Homo sapiens: one gene and its partners. The protein of the gene in region 3 purifies or fractionates together with the protein of the main gene of each other region. This does not show direct contact. Each region holds a gene or a part of one and is shown on either strand. Other genes may lie near its edges.

Region 1 (3,918 bases), on a different chromosome or scaffold from region 3:
AGCAGTATTATGAAAGACAAAAGTTCTGCCACATTGTAGGTAATAATCTCATTTAGCAATCATTGTTGTCACTATTAGGTTGGAGCTGACAAAGTATGAGTCTCCACTTATAAAGCATCTATCTCCAGAGTTCGAGGCTTTTGTCTTAAATTCCAGTCATCTTGTACAGGCATGACATATCAGGCAAAATGATTAGAAAACTCAAGCTCCATATTAAAAAGCTTAACTTCTGGAGTCCTAGGAAACTATCTAAAACTCCTTCAATCCACGGTCTCTCCTGTACAACAAAGACTTCCCAGTGGTAGATGTCTATTTGTACCCAACATCCACTCATTCAGCACGTAATTCAGCACCTCCAAATCCTGGCCCTCAAAGAACACAGCTAAGAACAATGTGTGTGTAATTATCAAGTAATAGGAATGATACTTTTAAAACTGGAAATTATACATTCAAATGAGATTTCTCTCCTTTAACCAGTCCCCTTGGGAGGCAATGCAGTAATTCCAATGGTACTTCATTACTCAAATCATCTTTGAAGCTTTCTTCTTGGAAGCACCTTGAGAACCTGCAGTCTGATCTTCTGACTATCCCAAATGGTGCTAAATTTTCACTGAGGGTGGATTCAAATTTTGGAAATGGCAAACAGTCAGTCAGAGCCAAGGTTAGTGAATAAGATGTGTGATCAAACTAGGTGGAACTATTTTGGTTGAAAATGATAGATGATCATAAAGCAATGAGATGGATCTTCTTATGTGATATGTAAACTGACTTTAAAGGGAATTCCAGATGAGTAACAAGGAGTATGAACAATGGAATAGGTGTATACATTCTCTTTCCCCAAGTAACCTCTTTGAATAACAACACTCATTTGGATGTATAAGCGCCACTAACAGGTTTGTTTTGTTTAATCACTTACAATTTGTAAATAGAGGGTTCCTTAGCATACTGGATCTACAATGTCATGGAGGAAAGGAGTTGTCACTTAACTAGAACTATGGCATGGCACGCAGGAAAGAGCACAGGCTTCATGAGACTGACGTGGATTCGAATGTTGACTTAGATTCTTCCTGCCTATGCAACTTCAGGGAAGTCACAAGCTGTCAAGACTTTAAAATAAGGCTGATACCTAATTTTGCAGGGTTGTTGTAAAGATCATGGATAATGGATGCAAAGCCCCTACATTGGGCCTGGCATGTGGTGGGTACTCAAGAAGTCACAGCTATTATTAACAGCAACATCAGTAAAATCAAGACCATTTTCTGACTGTAGGTGGCTTGAGAGGACAGAACAACAGATAAGCAGTCACTTGAGTGGTAAGTAGTTCATTGACAGTACTGACAGTACACTCGTGCATTAGATACTGCTTTCTTAAAAACAATAACCTGTAAAAACTATTTGCAGTAACTATGTATTTTTAATTCATACGACACATATCATCTGCAGTGCTCATACCACATGGACCTCTTCACTACCTGAACATACCAGGCACTATCATGACCCCATGCCTTTGTGTACTTTGTCCCTTCTGAGATACTGAAAGGGGCCAGCCCCTCCACACCTGTGGGTATTTCTCGTCAGGTGGGACGAGACTGAGAAAAGAAATAAGACACAGAAACAAAGTATAGAGAAAGAACAGTGGGCCCAGGGGACCGGCACTCAGCATACGGAGGACCCGCACCAGCGCTAGCCTCTGAGTTACCTCAGTATTTACTGATCATTATTTTTACTATCTTAGCGAGGGGAGTGTAGCAGGGCAACAGGTGGGGAGAAGGTCAGCAGGGAAACGTGAGCAAAGGAATCTGTATCATGAATAAGTTCAAGGAAAGGTACTGTGCCTGGATGTGCACGCAGGCTAGATTTATGTTTCTCTTTACCCAAACAACTCAGTGTAGCAAAGAGTAACAGAGCAGTATTGCTGCCAGCATACTTCGCCTCCAGCCACAGGGTGGTTTTCTCCTATCTCAGAATAGAACGAATGGGAATGGTCAGCTTTACACAGAGACATTCCATTCCCAGGGATGAGCAGGAGACAGAAGCCTTCCTCTTATCTCAACTGCAAAGAGGCCCCGCTCTTTCACTACTCCTCCTCAGCACAGACACTTTACGGGTGTCGGGCTGGGGGGTGGTAAGGTCTTTCCTTTCCCACAAGGCCATATCTCAGGCTGTCTCAGTGGGGGGAAACCTTGGACAATACCCAGGCTTTCTTGGGCAGATGTCCCTGCGGCCTTCCGCAGTGCACTGTGTCCCTGGTTAATCGAGAATGGAGAATGGCGATGACTTTTACCAAGCATACTGCCTGCAAACATATTGTTAACAAGGTACATCCTGCACAGCCCTAAATCCATTAAACCTTGATTCATTACAGCACAGGTTTCTGTGAGCACAGGGTTGGGACTAAAGTTACAGGTTAACAGCATCTCAAAGCAGAAACAATTTTTCTTAGTACAGATCAAAATGGAGTTTCTTATGTCTTCCTTTTCTACATAGACACAGTAACAATCTGATCTCTCTCTCTCTTCCTCACAAGGTACCCTTCCTACTCTCTGGTCTGATGACAACCCTACAATTCTAGCTCAAAAGTCTGGCTCAAAAGACTAGCTCAATTCAAAATCTAGCTCAAAAGTCATTTCCACTATAGACTCTTCCCTGCCTGCTCGAGACAGAATTAGTAGCTCTGCCATTTGTACTTCTAAGACATTTGGTTTCTTTCACTGTAATGCCTCATACTCTATTGAATTCTTATTTCCCTTTCATTTCTGCTTCTTCCACTAGGCTTACGCATTGAGAGGAGGACTATATTCCTTTATTTTTGTACTTAGAGCACCTAGTACATCACTTGGCACGAGATAGGAATCTAGATGTTTGAGGAATCAATGTTATAATATACTTTGCAAATAACTGTTAGAGGCCAGGTAGCTGACTTTAGTGAACTATATTACCAGCAATCGCATTCCTTTTTCCTGCTTCAAACAAGAGACAAGATAACTTATATGGACTCCAGAATGTCTTCTGAAGATGGAGCATACAGAAGTCTCCAAACACTACTGATCTCATCAGTACCCCATGCCCACAAGTTGGAACCCCCAGAGCAACACTTCTCAGCCTTTGTTCCAGTCTAGCACACCTGAGGGATACACCACACTCCCATCAGGAGCTCACAACAGATGACTAAGAAGGCCCAGCAGAGTTTTCACAGCCTTCCAGTGCCACATGGCTACCAGGGTGGAAGGGCCTTCTCTGAACCAGCAACTCCCCCAAAGTAGCAGAAAATTTCAAGGCTCCATGGTGAGTGCCGGGAGCCCACCTAATGCTACCTACTACCAGATCCCTACCACCTACAATGCCTCAGAATCAGTTTGCCTACTCTAAGAACAGGGCTCTTTCACTGTTAGGAAGCCTCAGGCATTCAAGGAAGGACTTGTTTGTGGGTCCGGTACATCTGTTTCGGCATGTCTTAACCTGCATAACTAAAAAGCAATTATGAAAAGAAGTTCATGATCAACCAGTTCAGTGCCAGATGGAAATAGGTAGAGTGGGTCAGCTGGCAGCCCTGTACATCTGAGTGTTGACACTTGTGAATCATTCTCTGTCACTATAGTTTCCAGAGCCTTGCCAACGCAGCAGTGGGTTCAGACTTACCAAGATCCAAAAGGCTGGAAAGGGGATCTGGAGCCATGACCCATGCCTTGGGACCCACCAAACCATGACAGTGACTATTTCTATGACAAAGACATGCTCTTCAAAGTAAATATAGCCATATTCTGCCTTAGTGCCATGTTCTCTCCCATCTCTCCAAAGCAATGGCTGCACTCTGAAGGTGGGAAGAGTGTGAGAAGAAAGAGAACCAGGCCACAGACCACCAGGAAAGCAGTGATTGAAAGCAGCAGCTCTAGATTTATCTTATAGGCTCTGGAGAGT
Region 2 (3,661 bases), on a different chromosome or scaffold from region 3:
GGAAAAGCAGGAGCAAGAGAGAGAAAGGGGGAGGGGCACATACATTTAAACAGCCAGATCTCGAGAGAACTCTTGGAATTAATTATATTTTACTTAAATTTCTTTAGCCTGAATTCTAGAAAAAAATGTACAGTGGTAGAAGGAATGGGGTGGGATGGGATGGGACAGGGTAAGAATAGATTATAATTCTTCTGTGTTTTTAAATATTCAGGCAGATTAATATGTGATATGATGCTTACCCTTGGTTAAAGATCTACATTTTTTGTTTTCTCTTGCAGCAATGACTTGACTTGAAGAGCTCTAAGAGACTGAAAACTTATATGAAGTTGCCTTGGGAATATTTTTATATATTTTATACAGTTTCTATCATGGAGTCAGCAGGCACGTGGATAAAACCTAAAAGGGAATATTATTGCTGTGCCATATACAGAATTCAGTTTGCTTTGAAACAAGTTTTGGTTGAAAGAGTCTGTTGAAAATTTTATTATACTTCCAGGGAAGGAAAGAGCTGTTTTTATCTTCTTAACCACTCCCAGCCTCTACTCTTCCCAGCCCCTAATCCCAGGCCTTGGTGTACACACTGTAGTTTTTCCATTATGATGAGTATGTGCAGTGATACTATTCATGTACAGTCTGAGCTTATGCTCAGGGGTGTGTGTGTATATGTGTATGCATGTGTGCACGTGAGTGTGTGTTTCTTTTTCCAGTTCCTGCATCCTATTTTGACACTGGTTGTAAGAAGATCTTGATACATACAGGTTAGCTGTTACAAAAGATAAAAGATGAATCTTCAGTGGTAAAAGCTCAGTGGAAATAATCTAGTTAGCCCTGAGGAGTTGATTCCCCAAGGGACCATGGAGTCAGATGGGACCAGATGCTAGACTTTGGATTCCTTGACCACAAATTCAGCATTAACTCCTGCCACCACCATGTCACTCCTACAGCACTTACACATTTTGAGAAGGTTTTTTTTTTTTTTTTTTTGAGGCAGAGTCTCGCTGTGTCCCCTAGGCTGGAGTGCAGTGGCACAATCTCCACTCACCTCAATCTCCACCTCCCCAGGTTCAAGCGATTCTCCTGCCTCAGCCTCCCAAGTAGCTGGGATTACAGGCATGCACCACCACGCTCGACTAATTTTTGTATTTTTAGTAGAGACGGGGTATCACTATATTGGTCAGGCTGGTCTTGAACTCCTGACCTCAGGCGATCTACCCGCCTCGGCCTCCCAAAGTGCTGGGAATATAGGCGTGGGCCACTGCACCCGGTTTTTTGTTTTTTTTTGTTTTTTTTTTTTTTTTAACCTTTAGCTGAGCGATTCTTGGTTAATCCATTGAATAAAGGAGAAAATGGTTGAAAGTCACACACACACAAATTTGTTTGGACAACCCAAGGCCAAAACAAAAGAACCCTGCTTCTCTCTTTTTTTTTTTTTTTTTTTTTTTTTGAGGCGGAGTCTCGCTCTGTCGCCCAGGCTGGAGTGCAGTGGCACGATCTCAGCTCACTGCAAGCTCCACCTTCTGAGTTCACGCCATTCTCCTGCCTCAGCCTCCTGAGTAGCTGGGACTACAGGTGCCCACCACCACGCTTGGCTTATTTTTTTTGTATTTTTAGGAGAGACGGGGTTTCACCGCATTAGCGAAGATGGTCTCGATCTCCTGACCTCGTGATCCACCCGCCTCGGCCTCCCAAAGTTCTGGGATTACAGGCTTGAGCCACTGCGCCCGGCCTAGAACCCTGCTTCTCATATAAGATGGGCCTGCACCTACCTCTGGCATGTTTTTCTTTGTGTATTTCCTGTTTTTCATCCTGTAACTAATGCTCATTATTTAAAACACTCCAGTTACTTTTCCCTTTAGGCCTGGCAAACTTTTCTTTTTCTTTTTTTTTTTTATAACTGTACATTTTACAAAACACCTGAAAGGACCCAGAGGCATAAATAGTATTACATGATTTATGGTAGCTCTGGGGTGAGCTGTGGGGGAGGCCAGTTACAAGGTCTCCAAGACCCGCCTCCATGTCAGTGTTGGGGGGTGCCTTGAGCACTTCTTTTATTTCATATAGGAAAATGCACATCTTTCATTTGTCTCCCAAAAGATGATTTCCATAAAAATATACTTCAAAGTATTTACTGTACATAGACTTCAATGATTTTATTTCCAGCATCAAACTAAACATTTCTAACCTTTTAAATAAATGGGGAATTTAGTTTCATGAGAATTTTTACTGACAACTAATAAACACTGTATGTGTACATATTCATATACACTGTGGACTGGAGAAAGTCAGTATGGAAATAAATTTCACTGAGATCCAGAAAGTAGCAATATAGGACTTTTAGGGGTATGTATTAGTGTAAATAATATATGTGCAGTCTAGGCTAATCATTTTAATTAAAAACAAATAAGCATACTTTTTTGCTTTAAAAATATGCCCTCAAAATGGTGGGGGATAAAATGTAAGATATTCTTTAGCTTTAATTATTTTTCCATCTTATTCAAGTCAGAGCACTTTTTTTTAAATAGCAATACAACAGGCAAGAGAATACTCAAAAATATTTAAAACTGTATTGATACCAAGAGTATGTTTTAAATATTTTCTAATAAATACTTGAGCGGTTTTTGTCTGGCAGGCTTCCAAATTTGCCAAAATTAAGCGTTCAGTATTTTCAACACATACGCTTTTTACTGGTTTATACTGAACTATCTGATGAGAATTCCTGTGTTCCCAAAGCAACTGATGTTTACAGGTCTTGTGTTACTCCTCCTCCTTTCTAAGGATGAGGGAATCCACAACAGACTTTCTCTAGAAAACACTAATGATGGACAACTTTTTGGTGTCATCAATGAGTTGGCTACTACCTTGATGTAAAAATTTGTAAGGAAAATTTTCACCATTTCGAGTGTCAAGTGTATTTTTAACTGTCTGGTTTGTACTTTTATGACTTTTGTACTACCAAAGCGGAGTTAAAAATAAAAATGTTAAACGCAGTGTGTTGTCTTGTGGGTGATCCAATTATTGGCGCCTTGTACACTGGAAATACAGTCGTGGCAGTATAATTATTGAGCTTAATTTTTTACAGTGCTGAATTTCTTGTGTCTTGAAATATCAAGTGATCACTTGGCTGACTTTCCTCATGAGATTTCCCCTCCTGCAGTACCCCTTCCCCTAACACAGGCATACTTTGGAGATACTGTGGGTTCAGCCCCGGCCTACTGCAGTAAAGCAAATATTGCAATCAAGCCAGCCACATGAGCTTTTTGGTTTCCCACTGCATATAAAAAAGTTATATTTATACTATACTATAGTCTATTAAGTATATGCAATAATATTCTGTCAAAAAACATACATACCTTAATTTAAAATACTTTTTATTGCTAAAAAAAAATACGATAATCTGAGCCTTCAGCAAGTCATAATCTTTTTGCTGCTGCAGGATCTTGCCTCAATGTTGAAGGCTACTGACCAGGGTGGTGGTTACTGAAGGTTGGGGTGGCTGTGGCAATTTCTTAAAATAACACAGTGATAAAGTTTGCTGCACTGATTGACCTCACCTTTCATGAAAGTTTTCTCTATAGCATGCAGTACTGTTTGATAGCATTTTATCACAGTAGAACATCTTTCAAAATTGGAGTCAATCATCTCAAAATCTGATGCTGCTTTA
Region 3 (3,918 bases):
TTACATATGTTTAAAATTTTCTATAATAAAAAGTTAAAAAAAGTTATTGTGGTAAAAACTACATAATATAAAATTTACCTAAATTGTTTAAATATGGCTAAAAACTCAAACTGATATAAAAGATATATGCTAAGCAGTCTTGCTCCTACCACTGTACCCATCCACCCATCTCCCCTGGCCCCCTATAGGTTACCATTTTTATTAGTTTCTTATTTTTCACTGATTCTTTATCCAAATATAAATACATATTATTTCTTTTCTTTCTTATACAATAGGAGGTATACGATATATATTCTCTGCATTTTGATTTGTTAAACCTAATAATGTACCCTCTGTAGATCTTTCTATTTTAGTTCATAGAGATCTTCCTGATTCTTTTTTAAACATTGAATACTACTCCAGTATGTGGATATGCCATTATTTATTCAATGAATCTTTCGTTGCTCGGACACTAGGGTTGTTTCCAAATTTTTTGATGCTATACAATAATGCACCAACAAAGCACACCAATGTATTAAGGTTGTTTTATACATTTGCAGGTTTATCTATAGAATCAAAATGAAACTGTAGTGTCAAAATGCAAATGGGTATAGAACTTTTACTGAATTCCCTGACAAAAATGCAGATTTCTTTCTGATATGAATATGCTGTCTCCTAACCCTAAATTTAAGGATAAGTTTCTTAAGTAGAAATTTTAGTAGAAAATAGAGAACAAGCTAGGTTAATGAAGACATCAGTGATGAAAGGAATTGAGATAGGAAATAAATATCAATGAGGCTTTGAAATATAGGTTTTAAATTAGTTGTGCTTATTCTTTATTAGGTCTTGCTGGAATCTACATATATATACTCAAACTTATACTATATTTAGGTTTCACATAACAATTAGACTTCCACACAGAAAACAAAGCCTTTGAAAGACTTGCTTCAATCAAAAGATAGAAAATGGGGTTCTGTTCTAGGTAAGACAGAATAAGCAAACTCTATCCTGTCTTTCCCAGTGAATGCAACTATAAAACCTGGACAGGATACATGAAGTGGCTATTTGAGGACTCTGAAAAATTAATAGTGAGCATATTAAGGAAGACTGCAATGTGAAGAACCATTGAATTAGCAGTTTCCTTCCATATCCCCTTGTCTGAATGCAACTCAGCTTAAAACCCAAAAGTGTGAACAGAATACTCCAGAAGAAGGCCTATAGTTCTGGCTCATGAAACAAGAAAGGGGACACACGAATACTTGGAGATAGTGTAGAAATACAATATTTTTCCTTCTGTTGTAAGCCAGCTTCTGAGCAATTTCATGACAGTTGTGGCAAAGGCTATAACACAAGCAGAATGCTCAAAAACAACAGTCCCCAACCTTTTTGGTACCAGAGACTAGTTTCATGGCAGACAATTTTTCCATGGACAGGTGTTTGGGGGATGGTTTCAGGATGAAGCTGTTCCACCTCAGATCATCAGGCATTAGTTAGATTATCATAAGAAGCCTGCAACCTAGATCCCTCACATGCACAGTTCACAATAGGATTCACGCTCCTATGAGAATCTAATGCCTCTGCTAATCTGACAGGAGGTGGAGCTCAGATGGTAATGCTCACTCACCTGCCACTCACCTCCCACTGTGTGGCCTGGTTCCTAACAGGCCATGGACCAGGGGTTGGGAACGCCTGCTTACAAATACAGAGGAAGGGAAATTTTTCTTTTTTTTTTTTTTTGAGACGGAGTCTCACTCTGTTGCCCAAGCTGGGGTGCAGTGGCGTGATCTCGGCTCACTGCAAGCTCCGTCTCCCAGGTTCATGCCATTCTCCTGCCTCAGCCTCCCAAGTAGCTGGGACTACAGGCGCCCGCCACAACGCCTGGCTAATCTTTTGTATTTTTAGTAGAGACAGGGTTTCACCATGTTAGCCAGGATGGTCTCGATCTCCTGACCTCATGATCCGCCCGCCTTGGCCTCCCAAAGTGCTGAGATTACAGGCGTGAGCCACCGCGCCGGGCCCAGAAGGGAAATTTTTCTGACTGATGGAACTGTATCTCAAGACAGTGGGGCAAACTCCCATTGCTTTTATTCTTTGTCCTTCTACCACTTGGCCCTGGACATAGGTGCAGTTGTGCAAGTGCATGAGAAAATTTGGCCTGGGGACCGAAAAAGGGAGCCCCAGCAAATCACAAAGTATGGCAGAGACTGTAGACAGGGTGAAGTGTGAGAAAGCAACCCCATGAAGTAGTTCGTGAATGCTTGAGCTCATTGCCAAAGCTGTGCATGCATGGATTTGATCCTACTTAGTGTACCAAAGACACTGAAAACTGAAACAACAGAGACAACAACACCCAGGTCACATACCGGGTGTTGCACAAATATAAAATAAGTGAAATCATATAAAGTATGTTCTTGGATCATAATAAAATTAAGCTAGAAGTCAATAGCAAAAAATAACTGGAAAGCCTCTAAATACATGGAAACTAAACAACACATTTCTAAACAGCCTATGGGAAAATCTCAAGGAGTATTAGAAAATATTTTGAACTAAATGAAAATAAAAGTAATACATTTAAACATTTGCAGGATGCAGCTAAAGCAGTGTTTAGAGGGAAATTTATAGCATTAAAATACTTGTATTGGCAAAAATGCAAGGTATCCAGTAAGTAATCTAAGAAGCTATAGAGAACAAAATAAACCAAAAGCAAGCAGAAGGAAAGAAATAAGAGTAGAAATCAATTAAACTGTATATGGAAAAACAATAGAGAAAAATCAATGAAACCAAAAGTTGCTTCTTTGGAAAAAAATCAATACAATTGATAAACCTCTACAAGTCTGACAAGAAAAAGAGAAGACATAAAATACCAAAATCAGAATGAAAAAGGTCATATCACTACAAACTGTGCAACTATCAAAAGGACAATAAACAAATACTATAAACAACTCTATTGATATACATTAAAAAATTTAATGAAATAGATGGAATTCCTTGAAAATCACAAATTACAAAAACTCATCCAAGATGAAATAAATAACTTGAACAATCCTAATTACTAAAGAAGTTGACTTTGTGGTTAAAAACCTTTCAAATAAGAAACCTCCAGGCCCAGATGGTCTCTTGGTAAATTCTACCAAACCTTCAAAGAAGAAATAACACCAAATATACTCAATTTCTTCCAAAAAATAGAAGAGGAAGGAATACTTCCAATTAATTCTATGAGGCCAACATTATCCTCACACCAAAACCAGTCAAAGACATTATGAGAACAGAAAACTACACACCAATGCCTGTCATGAACATGGATAAAAATCCTCAACAAAATATTAGCAAATCAAATCCAGCAACACATAAAATGAATAATACACCATGACCAAGGAATGGAAGGCTGGTTCAATATTTGAAAATCAGTGAATGTAATCCACCAGTATTGAAAATCAGTGAACGTAATCCACCATACTGACAGCCTAAAGAAGCAGCCACATGTCCATATCAATTGATGCAGAAAAGGCTTTTGACAGAATTCAGTATCTGTTCATGATATTAACAAAACTATCAGCAAATTAGGGATAGAAAGAAATGTTCTCAACCTGATAAATGATGTCAACAAAAAAAACCTAAAGCTGACATCATACTTAATAGTGAAATGAATGCTTTCCCCCTAAGATTGGAGTAAGACATAGATATTCACTCTTATCACTCCTAGTTAGTACCCTTTTGGAAGTTGCTGCCAGTGCGAAAAGGCAAGAAATAAGACAACAAGCACACAGATTGAAAAGGAAGAAATAAACCTGTCTATGTAGAGCATCCTAAGGATTGTACTAAAAAACTCTGGTCACAAGATACAGGTCAGCACTCAGAATCAATTCTATTTTTTTTTATACTAGCAATGGAAAATTTGAAACTGAAGTTTAAATATACCATTTATGGCCAGGTATGGTG
Region 4 (3,330 bases), on a different chromosome or scaffold from region 3:
GCAGCCTTGACCTCCTGGGCTCAAGTAATTCTCCCACCCCAGCCTCCTGAACAGCTGGGACTACAGGTGTGTGCCACCACACCCAGGTAATTTGTGTAGAAATGGGGTCTTGCTACGTTGCCCAGGCTGGTCTTAAACTCCCAGGCTCAAGCAATCCTCCCACCTCAGCCTCCCAAAGCACTGGGGTTACAGGCGTGAGCCACCATGCCCAGCCTGGGTCTCACTTTCTCTAACGTAGCGGAGAACTTTGTGAGACTAGAACAACACACACAGCAGCCCCTGATGCCTGGCAGATGCTCAGGACTCACTGGCCTCTCGGCCCGCACACAAACCCGCATCCATCACCCACGTGCCCACAGGCCCAGCGCCAGCCAGCAGCAGCTGGAAACCAAACCTTGTCCCAAAGCGGCTAAGACAGGTCTTTGCATTTTTAAAGAGAAAAAAATAATAATAAACTCTTTTGAGACGTGAGGATGCTATACAATTCCAATTTCAGGGTCTGGCGAGAAAATTACTTGAGGGATGGGCGTGGTGGCTCGTGCCTGTAATTGCAGCGCTTTGGGAGGCCGAGACAGGAGGATTGTCTGAGCTCAGCAGTTCGAGATCAGCCTCAGCAACACTGCAAGACCCCATCTCTATTTTAATTTTGTAAAAGGTATTTTGGCCCATTTTACACATGGTCTGTGATGCTTTCCAGCAACAGTGGCAGAGCTGAGAAGCGTGACAGGGACCACATGGCCCACAGAGCCCATGGGAGTGACGCTGGGCACCTCACAGCACTGGCCGGCCCTGCGGTGGCAATTCCAATCCGTCCTCTGCAGGACAGCCAGGCGGCCTGCCAGCTCTCAGTTCTGCTCACCGGGACCTGCACAGAGCAGATGCCCCAAGCCGTGCACTGCGGAGGCAGAGGCCGGGCCATATGTATCAAAAGCTGTGTTTAATGATCAGACGGAATGGCAGCAAGGCCACACGGACAGACGGAGCCAAGGACAGGACCGCCGCCTCTGAACCCCTCCCCACTGGTCAAACGTCCAACACCAAAAAAGAGACGTCCCCACCCCGTCCCCATGTACAAAATGGCTTCAGTGAAGGCGCCATTACTCCCTGGGAAGCTGGTATTTTTTGTAAGGGATCAGGGCTCACCCCTGCCACCCTCTGTCCGGAACAGACCCGTGAGAGCGCAGCGCTCAGCAGTCCCCGTGTGCAGCTGGGGACGACTGACTTGACAGAAACAGATTCTGGACTCGAGTCTGGAGGCCGCACTCAACAGGGCGGGTGGCGGGCGGGAGCTGGGGCCCAGGCACCACAGACAGCCAGGGTGCGGGCTCTGTCTCTGCGGCCACAGGGAGCGCTGCTTCGGAAGTGACCACGTGCAGCGAGGGGAGGATGCCGGGGCCTGGGGCCACGCCTCGGTCAGTTCCCGCACGGACGTCTCTGCCCTGGAGTCAGGAGGACCCCATCAGTGAGTAGACCATGCCAGTGGCAGATGTCCTCGTGGGTTCCAGAAGCTCCTAGCTGCTGGGTCCAGAGGGTTAAGAACCCAGGCACCAATGCCGCTGCCACAGGGAGAACCGAGGCCCAAGCCCCTCTCAGCAGAAAAGCAACACGGGGCCCACACGGGAAGCGAGGTTGGGTGCCGGGAGCTACCAGGACCTCCCACGACCCAGTCCCTCCCTCCCAGGGCTCCAGGGACCCCTGAGGGCCTGACCCAGCCTGCCTGGCGCCCACCCCTGCTTGTCAGAAGGGCAGTCTGAGAGACGTCCACCCCACCAGGTGGCACCAGCAGGACTTCTAGAAGTTGCGACCATTTATTAAAATGGGGAGGAGTGTGCAGGCATGGCCAGGCACCTCTGGCTGAGGGCAGGGCAGGGCCTTAGCCAGGGGAGCAGCTTGTCCACTTACTGCCAGCCTTGTTCACGCCCCAAAACCCCGCCCCACGGGCCTGTCTCAGCCAGCGTCAGGGGCCAGAGGCCGCCCCGGCCACTGGTCCGTGTCCTAGGCTTGGAGGCAGCTTCCAAACCTCCCAGGGGCTCCGATCTGCTCAAGAGGGAAAAGCGATGCCTTCTGGGAGACAGAAAGCTGCTCTTCCACCCGGAGAGCAGGATGCCGTGGGGAGGGAGGTCACCTGAAGGCCGAAGCAGCTGGTGAGCACCAAGTGTGGCCGCGGCCAGAGTCCACCCACGCCTGCTCACTCATGCAGACGACGCTTGAGGGTCTGCAGAGAGGCCGGGCAGGGCCTGCGAGGACGGACCCCGGTGGGGAGGATGGACCCGCAGAGAGCTTGTGGCAGCCGGGCGAGCTGGGAGCAGCAGGCGTGCAGCCGGGGCAGCTGGGCTGGGCGCGGGCACAGACCGCAGGGGTCTCGGCAAGGATGAGCACCATGTTGGGGCGGGTGGGGACGGCACAGGCCTCGGTCCCGGGGGACAGGCGTCTGTCTGTCTGTCTCCAGTGGGCGCCAGGCAGCCCCAACATCTTGGTGTGGCGGGCACGGCAGCGAGCGTCTCACCCCTCCCCTAGGCCGAGGCGCCAGGCTGGGTTACCGGGGACGGCTGGGCCTGGTCCCGGCCCTCGGATTCAGCTGGGCTCCCAGGCTCCCGCATGGGGGCTCCAGCCCCCATCTCCTCGGACGTGCGTGATTTTGGGGACTGCTCAGCAGGCCAGGGGGATGTGGCTGGTTCTTCGCTGGGCGGCTGCGGGGAGAGTGGCGTGGCAGAGTCTTTGGGAGGCTGCGGGCCGTCGGCTGGTGCTGGGGCCCACGGAGATGGAGGTAGGACTTTCTACAGGAGAAGGGAGGCAGAGGTGAGGCGGAGACAGGGACCCAGAGGAGGACCCTGGCAGGGGCCAGGACACCCAGCACCCGCAGGCCACGGGGGCAGGGTCAAAATGAGGCGCCATCCCCAGGGGCTCTGGACCCAAGGAGGGGGCCGGCTCCATAACCTACGGGCACCCAGGACCCTGTCCATCGGCACAGGTGCCGCGGGAGGGCCATCCGAGGCCAGCAGAGGCTGGGAGCTGTGCAAAGCCTCTCCAAAGAAAAGCCTGGACTACCGTCTCTCGCCCCTGGGCCTGGTCCCCGGCTTCTCCTGAACCTTCTGAAATGCCCATCAGAATGGGGAGACCTTTGGGGTGGGGGTGCTGGCCCCAGGAGACTTCTCCCTGGGGCCTGGTCTCAGGCCATGGTCCCATCTGTGGGACCCATGAGCCCAGCTCGGCACTGGAACCACAGCTCGACCCAATGCATCACACCAGTGCGGCAGGGACGGGTGTGGTTTAACCTCCACAAAAACATGACGTAGGACCCCATGCGCGGCCAGCACCGCTGAGAAGCGC
Region 5 (4,614 bases), on a different chromosome or scaffold from region 3:
TGCTCTTCCCAAGTAGACTTGGAAGCACAAATAAATATTTCTTATTCTCTTGCCTTAAATTAACTTTTGAGAATACCTTGAAAAATTGAGGGGAAAAATCTAATGGCACCGATAAAATGGAGGATAATAATATCTCCGTCATTCATAGACTTGCTATGAAGACTATATGAAATAATATATATTTTATGTATATATATGTAATAGTCCTGGATCCACGTCTGGCATCCAGGAGGTTCCCAGAAATATCAGTTCTCACCTCTTTTCTGATGAATTCATACTGCACAAAAGCCTGTTACATTATCTGAAAAAGTCATCACTGTCATCCATGACACCTCTAGATGGAGATAAACCCCTCAAGAAAGCATAGAAAGGGTTAATAACCCTCTCTAGATAATGCAGATAGAAAAACACCGTCATTTTTGCTAAAGCACCCCAAATCCTACCTTGACATTGCAATCAACAAGCCTTATCCACCTTCCGAATTTCAGGACTTGCGTTGGGCTTGTTGCTGTAGATGATAGACGCTATTAGGAAAGAAATCATGTTGATGAAACAAATATTTTCTTCCCTCCCCAGGAGGATCAGGAGAATTTATTTAAGGAATGAAAAATATAATTAAATATTCTATAACCTACCTCCCCAAAATATGGACAAAATTATTTATTTCCCCCCACCTGTGGGGTGGAATGGGGGGGCATTGTAGATGATTCCCAAACAGCCAGGTGCTAAGGAGATTATACTCTTCAGAACAGACAATATTCAGTATGATTTCAGTACTGCAAAAGAGATGCAATGATCACGGTAGATATCATTTTCTGTGGGGCATGTCAGTTGGCCTTTGTCATTGTCTCTACACATATGTAGCCAACTACACAGTAACACCTTGTTTCTATTGCACTCATATTTTGATTGTCAGAATGGCTGATATGTACGTAAACTTCTTCATGAAAAATTTAAACTCTGGAGCCCAGATATCTTTTTTCATTACCGTGTATGTGAGGTCGCAATTGTCTGCAAACTGGGGAGCTCAGAGGTTACTCAGTGCGCCGCATTTCCTCACCCCCCGCCCCCCAAATCATCTTAGCTCAACCATATATGAGCGTCCCTCGGTTAGCCTGCCTAAAAGGTATGAGGTAAGGGGCATATGCACTTAGTGGCTCAGCAATCAGAGGCTTCCTTGGATGGGACTTATACTGGTAATATTAATGAAGAAGCTGCGCGGTACTGGCAGTGATTCCAGACCAAATCTTTTAACTGCCGAATGTCACTCGCTGAATTATGAGTTGGGGAGCTCTGTTGCTTAAAATACAGGGTTCTCAAACACAATGCAAGTGTTTGTCACCTCAAGTCGCATACTACCCAACAGGAAGCAAAAGGCAAAGGGCATGGCGCAGAAAAGAAACAGACACACAGACACGTTTTGCAATGACGAACTTTATGTGACATCAGGAACGGCAACCTGTTCTCATGTTTAGCAATTCCGAGGAACGCTGTAAAGACTGCTTGTCAGGTAAAACTGAGTACAGGAATAAGAGGCAGCGCTGGAGACTTTTTCGCAATCCTTTTCAAAATATAGAACAGTAACCAAATGACTTAGATAAGCTAATTAATTATTTAAAAAAAGGTTCACTGGATGCCTTTATCCTCTCCTCTTAAGCTTACGTGATCACCAGCAGCGCTGTTCAAATTCAGCTAACAGCTGTTAGACCAAACACAGATCCGCAGTGTGTTATCTCCCCAGAGTTACGGATGTTCGCTGAGACCCGCCAGAAAAATTAGGGTCGCTTTTCAATGAGAACATAATAAAGGATCCTTGGTTCCCCCTCTGCACACACTGTCCCAAACCTTGCGCCCCCTCCCACTTGCCTGCTGTCGGATTTCTTAAAATTGTAGTCGGTCCTGCAACTCAGTTGCATCTTCCGCAGCCCGACCCTCTACTCAGCGACATTGCGTTCAGTTTCCCTCCTTTCTCTCCTCCCACTCCTCACTTCTTGAGACCCCACCCCCGCCTTCCGTTTCTGTCTCGGCTTCCCCCGCGCCAGGTTCTCTAGACCCCCGCCTCCGCCCAGCGTCTTCATCTCGAGCCCCCGCTCCCAATCCCCTTAGAGACTTCTATGCTCCTTCCGTGGAACCTAAGCTCCTCTCTTCTTCCAGAGACTCAGTCTCCTCGCGATTTGCGCGTTCAGAGTCCCTCCCCCCAACCTCCGCTAGGGCCAGTGCGGTCCTGCAGGCTGCAGCCATCCGGGACCTGTCCCCGCTCCCCACCCCATCCCCCGCCTAAATCGTTGGGGTCTCGGCTAGCAATGCCGCCCGGGGCTCCAACTTACCACTAGCGTCCGGGAGGAAGACCAGGCAGCGGTCGCCGCGGCGGCAGCTAGACGAGAAACGGACTCGGCTGCAATCGCCCAGCGGAGCCCGCGGCAGTCGGTGCGCTGAGCTGCGCTGCGCTGCGCGCCGCAACCTCGCGCCTCGGCGGAGGGAGAGGAATGGAGGGAGCTCGGCGCGATAGGAAGCGCCGGCGAGTCGACCTCCTTTGGGTGACCGTGCGCCCCCCGGCTAGGTTTGGCTCTTTTCGCTCCGCTATCTTACTCTAGCTTAGTAACTGACCACCTCCAGCATCTCTGCACTAATCGCGTCTTCTTTCTTCTTCGTTGGCCCCTAACTAACTACACTACTCTAAACGGACGAAGGCCATCACACGAGCGCCACGACGATCGCGACGACTCCGACGACAACGATGTACAGACAGAAGAAGAGTTCATATGCAATCGGCAGGTAAGGGGCAAGGCAGGCCAATGGAGCAGCCAAGGCTAGCAATCTAGCCGCTCCAAAGGCAGTATCGGGAAGATCGGTGCATCTGAGGAAGGAAGCGTCCTCGGCAAGCACCAGAGCGCCTACCTCGCGCGGGTGAATCTGCACCACGCTCTTGGGCCAAAAGCGGGATGAGGGGAGGAGCCAAGAGCAGCCAATCAGCACTCAGCATTACGTGGCCCCCGGGCCTGTTTGGACCGGTCTCTTAGTGCATCTGGAGCCTGCTGGCAGGGGGCGCGAGACCCCATGGTGGAGATGGGGGTGGGGGTGATGATTAATCTGATTCACAAGGCCTAGAGAGTAGGGGGAACCAGGATCAGCCATGGCACCGGATAGAGAGAGAGGGAAGGCTTTCTCAAGAATGTACCCTCAAAGATTCATAGCATACCCCTCCCCAAACACACACACACACACACACACACACCCCTGTACATTTCATTTCAACAAACAGCATTCTCAAGTCTTGCAAATTTCATCAAGCTTTGAAACTCCCTTCAAGGGTCTCTGTTCCGACTCTTGCCCATTCCTCCAACAGTAGCAACTGAGGCACTCACAGGGTCAAACATTTGGTGAGTGCGCAAAGGCCACAATCCTGTTATAAGGCCCACTTCCCCATCCTTGTCTCCCCATCCTTTCCCTAACCCCAAAGGAGAAAGAAAAGCTCTTGGCCTTCGAGCCCCGGGAAGGCACAGTTTAGTTCCTTTCTTGACCCCACAGGCCTCATTAGAAAGACACCTTGAGGGCAGCTCTTACGGGTTTCCAAGGGGGTGAACATATCTCTCTGGCACAGGGCCTTGGGCCCACAGCCAGTCGGTTGCCCAGTCGTTGTGGGGGAGGGAGGGGTGCTGTCAATGCAAGGTCAAGGCAGCAAGAGGTGAACCACAAAGGCTCTCTTTTGGCAACTGCTGGGATGCCGAGCTGCAACCGGTCAGGCAGAGCTCTAACCGGTCAGGCAGAGCTCTTTTTCACAGGCTCCCAGGCGCAACCGGGCAGGTGCCTGCGGTGTCCTGGCGGCAGCGCAGAGAAGGGTGAACGGGGCCCCCTTGGCTCAGAGGCACCAAAACCAAGCTGAGTAATGGAGATGATCCCACGGAGAATGGGGACAGAAGCAGATCTCTCCTAAGAGGGAACGAAGGGGCGAGCGGGGGTGGTGGTCTCGGGTCGCGGCCGAGGTTTCTCGGCCCTGTACCGAGGACCGGGGTGGGAAAAGTGGAGATTGGCTCCCCGCCTGTCGGAGGTAGCTGGACCGAAGCAAAAGATCGAGCCTCCGGTTTGGCTACTTAGGACCGGACGGCAGCGCAGCGAGTGTATAGAAGAGGCTACAGAGAGGCCGTACAGAGAGAGGCTTGGAGGACCTAACCCGGCAGAACGCAAAAGGGGTGGGAGCTGCCGGCTATTCTGAAGGCCGAAGTTTGCCTCAGTAGCCCCAAAAGTTAGAGATGGAGAAGGAAGTGGAAGCAATGATAAGGGTCAGGCCCCTTCCTTATTCTGGATGCCCTAGGAACAGTCATTTCTCTCTGTGCCTCTGTTTCCATATTTGTGAAAGGAGCTGTCCAGTCTATTCCAAAAGGGGCATTTTGGGAATCCTCTGATTCCCTCCATCGCCACTGAATTCAGGCTTTGAAATTTAATTTGGCAGTGAACATACTGTCGGCACCCAAGTTCTGTTTCGAAAAGCAAAAACCCATCGCAGTTTTCTTGAAGCATCTGTTGAATGCTGCTGTATGATGCCGCACAGGTGGCTGCGACAGCGCTGCCAAGTCCACCGACTGCACAACGCTCGCATCTTTAGAAATGCTTTGG
Region 6 (3,918 bases), on a different chromosome or scaffold from region 3:
TATTGTTGTTATTACTTTTACCACCACCGTTATCAGCATCAGTGTCAAACATTCTTTGTGCCAGGCATTGACCATGCAGCCTACTGATATTTAGAAATTAAATGGTACCTAGATAGTATATGATGTCCAGAGCTCACAGAGTTAGAAAAAAATCCATTCTTGTGGCTGGCTGTGCCGCTGTCTGGCACATGGTAGATAACCAATAAATGAACAAATGAGCTATTTTAAAGATCACAATAGTGAGTACCCAGGCCAGCAGTTCAGCAGCTGATTTAGTATCTAGATTATATGATTTTTAAATTTTTTAAATACTGTTTTCTTGTTGGGCGTGGTGGCTGACACCTGTAATCCCAGCACTTTGGGAGACTGAGGTGGGCAGATCATGAGGTCAGGAGATCAAGACCATCCTGGATAACATAGTGAAACCCCGGGTCTACTAAAAATACAAAAAAAAATTAGCTGGGCGTGGTGGCGGGCACCTGTAGTCCCAGCTACTCGGGAGGCTGAGGCAGGAGAATGGCGTGAACCCGGGAGGCGGAGCTTGCAGAGAGCCGAGATTGCACCACTGCACTCCAGCCTGGGTGACAGAGCAAGACTCCGTCTCAAAATAAAATAAAATACTGTTTTCTTTTTCTTTTTTGAGACTGAGTCTTGCTCTCTCGCTCAGGCTGGAGTACAGTGGCACAATCTCAGCTCATTGCAACCTCCACCTCCTGGGTTCAAGCAATTCTCCTGCCTCAGCCTCCAGAGTAGCTGGGATTACAGGCAGGCGCCACCACACTCGGCTAATTTTTGTATTTTTAGTAGAGATGGGGTTTCACCATGTTGGCCAGGCTGGCCTCAAACTCCTGACCTCATGATCCTCCCACCTTGGCCTCCCAAAGTGCTGGGATTACAGGCATGAGCCACCATGCCCAGCCTTTAATACTGTTTTCTAAGGTGACCCTTTCAGTCATTTCTCTTGTACAACTTCAGTAGTGATTATATATGAGGAGAAAGTTTAGAACTCAAATCCACCAGCTGTTTTCATTTATTTTTAGAACAGATAAGAAGAAGATGCCAAGAGAAAAAACGTAAAACTAAAGCTGTTCTTGTATAAATCTCTTTCATATAAATAATTGGCTTCACCATAATAGCTGTCCCAGCTGGTAAGCCTCAGGAGTGTTCTTCTCCATCAGATGCTAAATCTTGAGAACTTTCCCTGGGGAAAAGCAGCTGTTAACTAGGACCTTCCTATTACCTGTCTCACCCAGACCACCCTAAAAGCTCATACATTTTTCCTGACACAGGACCAAGCAGTATGTTGGCAAGGTGGAAGTTGTCAGGAGAGAATAGCAAAATGGCTTCCTTGGTACCCCTTTGACCCCTTCTCCATCATAACTGCTCTCTCACGCCCATTTGTTCATTTAACAGTTAATATTTGAGTTCTTGCAGTGTAAATACTAAAAAATAGTGTTTCTATAAAGGAATTAACTATCCGTTGAGGGGACAGAAATAAAAACAGCTAGCTTAAGTACAGCTTTAAAGCTACGTATGCTATTCGGGTGTAACAGAGGAAAGAAAGACTAACACACTGTCTGGGTAATCTGGGATGGTGCCATAGAAGGAGTGCTATTTTAGGCGTTAACTAGGAATCTCAGGAGGAAAGGGAAAGAGAATGAAGGAAAGGGCCTTTTCAGGCAAAGACAGCAGGATGTACAAAAGCACAGAGATGTAAAACAGCATAATTTTTTAAAGAAACTGCAAATAAAGCAGTATTGCTAGAACACAGAGTGTAGAAAGAGACAGTAGCCAGAGAGGTTGAAAACTGGGAATTAAGTGAATTATATACCAAGTTAAGATATATGGACTTGATTCTGTAGAGAATTCGGGAGCACTTAAAGGGTTTTAAGCAGCAAGTTGCCATTATTTGAGGGTTTTTTTGTTTTCTTTATTTTTTGTTTTTTTGTTTTTTCGGGGTTTTTTTGAGACAGAGTTTCGCTCTTGTTGCCCGGGCTGGAATGCAATGGTGCGATCTCCACTCACTGTAACCTCCGCCTCCCGGGATCAAGTGATTCTCCTGCCTCAGCCTCCTGAGTAGCTAGGATCACAGGCGTGCACCACCATGCCCGGCTAATTTTGTATTTTTAGTAGAGACGGGGTTTCTCCATTTTGGTCAGGCTGGTCTCAAACTGCCGACCTCAGGTGATCCGCCTACCTCGGCCTCCCAAAGTGTTGGGATTACAAGCGTGAGCCACCACACCCAGCCATTTAGTTTTCATTTAGAAAGATGTCTCTAGGGTTTAATGGGGGTAGAAAGGACAGTTATTGCAAAAATATATATGAGAGTTGATAAAGGACTGAATTAAGGTTTTGAGTTGAGCAATTTGAAATTGCTGATATTCAGCCATTTTTGAAACAAATTTCATATGGGTTATTCAACTAGAAGCAGCGAGGATGGAAAAGAAGAGACAGACCTGAGAAAAATATGGGTGGTAGAATTGACAGATTCAACAGTAGAATTAAAGGAGGAGGTAGTTTTAGAGCTAATTCCAAGTTTGGGGTTTACCACCAGATTGGGTTATCATGCCATTCAACAAAATAAAACACTATAGGAAGAGGTGCAGCTAACACTCCCTAAACTTGCCCACTCGCCCATGCTCTTTGGAGTCATTACCCTTAATCTTTTTGCTCTACTCCAAGAGAATCTCCACCATTGGTTTGCAGGGGTATACAATCATTTGGATTTCCCTGGGCCATATTGGAAAACGAATTGTCTTGGGCCACACATAAAATGCACTAACACTAACAATAGCTGATGAGCTTAAAAAAACAAAAATCACAAAAAAAACTCAAACACCTGTGGCATTTGAAGAAGAAGAGAAATCTAAAAGTTTAGAAAACCAGCTGAGTGCGGTGGCTCACGCCTGTAATCCCAGTACTTTGGGAGGCCAAGGTAGGTGGATCATTGTGGTCAGGAGTTCCAGACCAGCCTGGCCAACATGGTGAAACCCCATCTCTACTAAAAATGCAAAAATTAGCCAGGCATGGTGGCGTGCGCCTGTAATCCCAGCTACTGGGGAGGCTGAGGCAGGAGAATTGCTTGAACCTGGGAAGCGGAGGTTGCAGTGAGCCAAGATCGTGCCACTGCACTCCATCCTGGGTGACAGAGCAAGACTCCCAAGACTCTGTCTCCAAAAAAAAAAAAAAAACAAAGAAAACTTTTGGAAAACATATTTGGGAGAATAATCAAGGAAGACTTCTCCAGTCTTGCTAGAGACCTAGACGTCCAAATACAAGAAGCTCAAAGAATACCTGGGAAATTCATTGCAAAAAGATCATTGCCTAGGCATATTGTCATCAGGTTATCTAAAGTTAAGACAAAGGAAAGAATCTTCAGAGCTGTGAAGCAAAAGCACGAGGTAACCTATAAAGGAAAACCTATCAACTTAACAGTGGATTTCTCAGCAGAACCCCTACAAGCTAGAAAGGATTGGGGCCCTATCTTCAGTCTCCTTAAAGAAAGCAATTATCAGCCAAGAATTCTGTATCCAGTGAAACTAAGCTTCATAAATGAAGGAAAGATACAGTGTGTTTCAGACAAACAAATACTGAGAGAATTCACCACTACCAAGCCAGCACTACAAGAGCTGCCAAAAGGAGCCCTAAATCTTAAATCCTGGAAACACATCAAAACAGAACCTCTTTAAAGAATAAATCTCACAGGACCTACAAAACAAAAATACAATTAAAAAAAAAGTGGGGGGTATACAGGCAACAGATAGCATGATGAATGGAATAGTACCTCACATCTCAATACTAAGATTGAATGTAAATGGCCTAAATGTTCCACTAAAAGATACAGAATTGCAGAATAGATAAGAATTCATTAACTATCTGCTGCCTTTAAGAGACTTACCCAACACATAAGGACTCACT

The links.
Region 1: the proteins of RABL3 (region 3) and TMEM185A purify together in Homo sapiens (co-immunoprecipitation; one large-scale study listed by IntAct). This does not show direct contact.
Region 2: the proteins of RABL3 (region 3) and RELL1 purify together in Homo sapiens (affinity purification with mass spectrometry; one large-scale study listed by BioGRID and IntAct). This does not show direct contact.
Region 4: the proteins of RABL3 (region 3) and SPPL2B purify together in Homo sapiens (co-immunoprecipitation; one large-scale study listed by IntAct). This does not show direct contact.
Region 5: the proteins of RABL3 (region 3) and HTR2C purify together in Homo sapiens (co-immunoprecipitation; one large-scale study listed by IntAct). This does not show direct contact.
Region 6: the proteins of RABL3 (region 3) and RAP1GDS1 purify together in Homo sapiens (affinity purification with mass spectrometry; 2 studies listed by BioGRID and IntAct, with this or other methods). This does not show direct contact.

The regions. Positions count from the first base shown.
Region 1 is NC_000023.11:149,624,985-149,628,902, forward strand, and holds part of TMEM185A (transmembrane protein 185A), read right to left. Parts: intron 1-3,918.
Region 2 is NC_000004.12:37,609,960-37,613,620, reverse strand, and holds the end of RELL1 (RELT-like protein 1 precursor), read left to right. Parts: intron 1-278; 3' UTR 279-2,987; downstream 2,988-3,661. UniProt on the Homo sapiens protein: Induces activation of MAPK14/p38 cascade, when overexpressed. Induces apoptosis, when overexpressed.
Region 3 is NC_000003.12:120,700,860-120,704,777, forward strand, and holds part of RABL3 (rab-like protein 3), read right to left. Parts: intron 1-3,918. UniProt on the Homo sapiens protein: Required for KRAS signaling regulation and modulation of cell proliferation. Regulator of KRAS prenylation, and probably prenylation of other small GTPases. Required for lymphocyte development and function. Not required for myeloid cell development.
Region 4 is NC_000019.10:2,352,393-2,355,722, reverse strand, and holds the end of SPPL2B (signal peptide peptidase-like 2B isoform 2 precursor), read right to left. Parts: intron 2,778-3,330; coding exon 2,514-2,777; 3' UTR 628-2,513; downstream 1-627. UniProt on the Homo sapiens protein: Intramembrane-cleaving aspartic protease (I-CLiP) that cleaves type II membrane signal peptides in the hydrophobic plane of the membrane. Functions in ITM2B and TNF processing.
Region 5 is NC_000023.11:114,582,373-114,586,986, reverse strand, and holds the start of HTR2C (5-hydroxytryptamine receptor 2C isoform a precursor), read right to left. Parts: upstream 2,902-4,614; 5' UTR 2,328-2,901; intron 1-2,327. UniProt on the Homo sapiens protein: G-protein coupled receptor for 5-hydroxytryptamine (serotonin).
Region 6 is NC_000004.12:98,421,596-98,425,513, forward strand, and holds part of RAP1GDS1 (rap1 GTPase-GDP dissociation stimulator 1), read left to right. Parts: intron 1-3,918. UniProt on the Homo sapiens protein: Acts as a GEF (guanine nucleotide exchange factor) for the Rho family of small GTP-binding proteins (G proteins) that stimulates the dissociation of GDP to enable subsequent binding of GTP.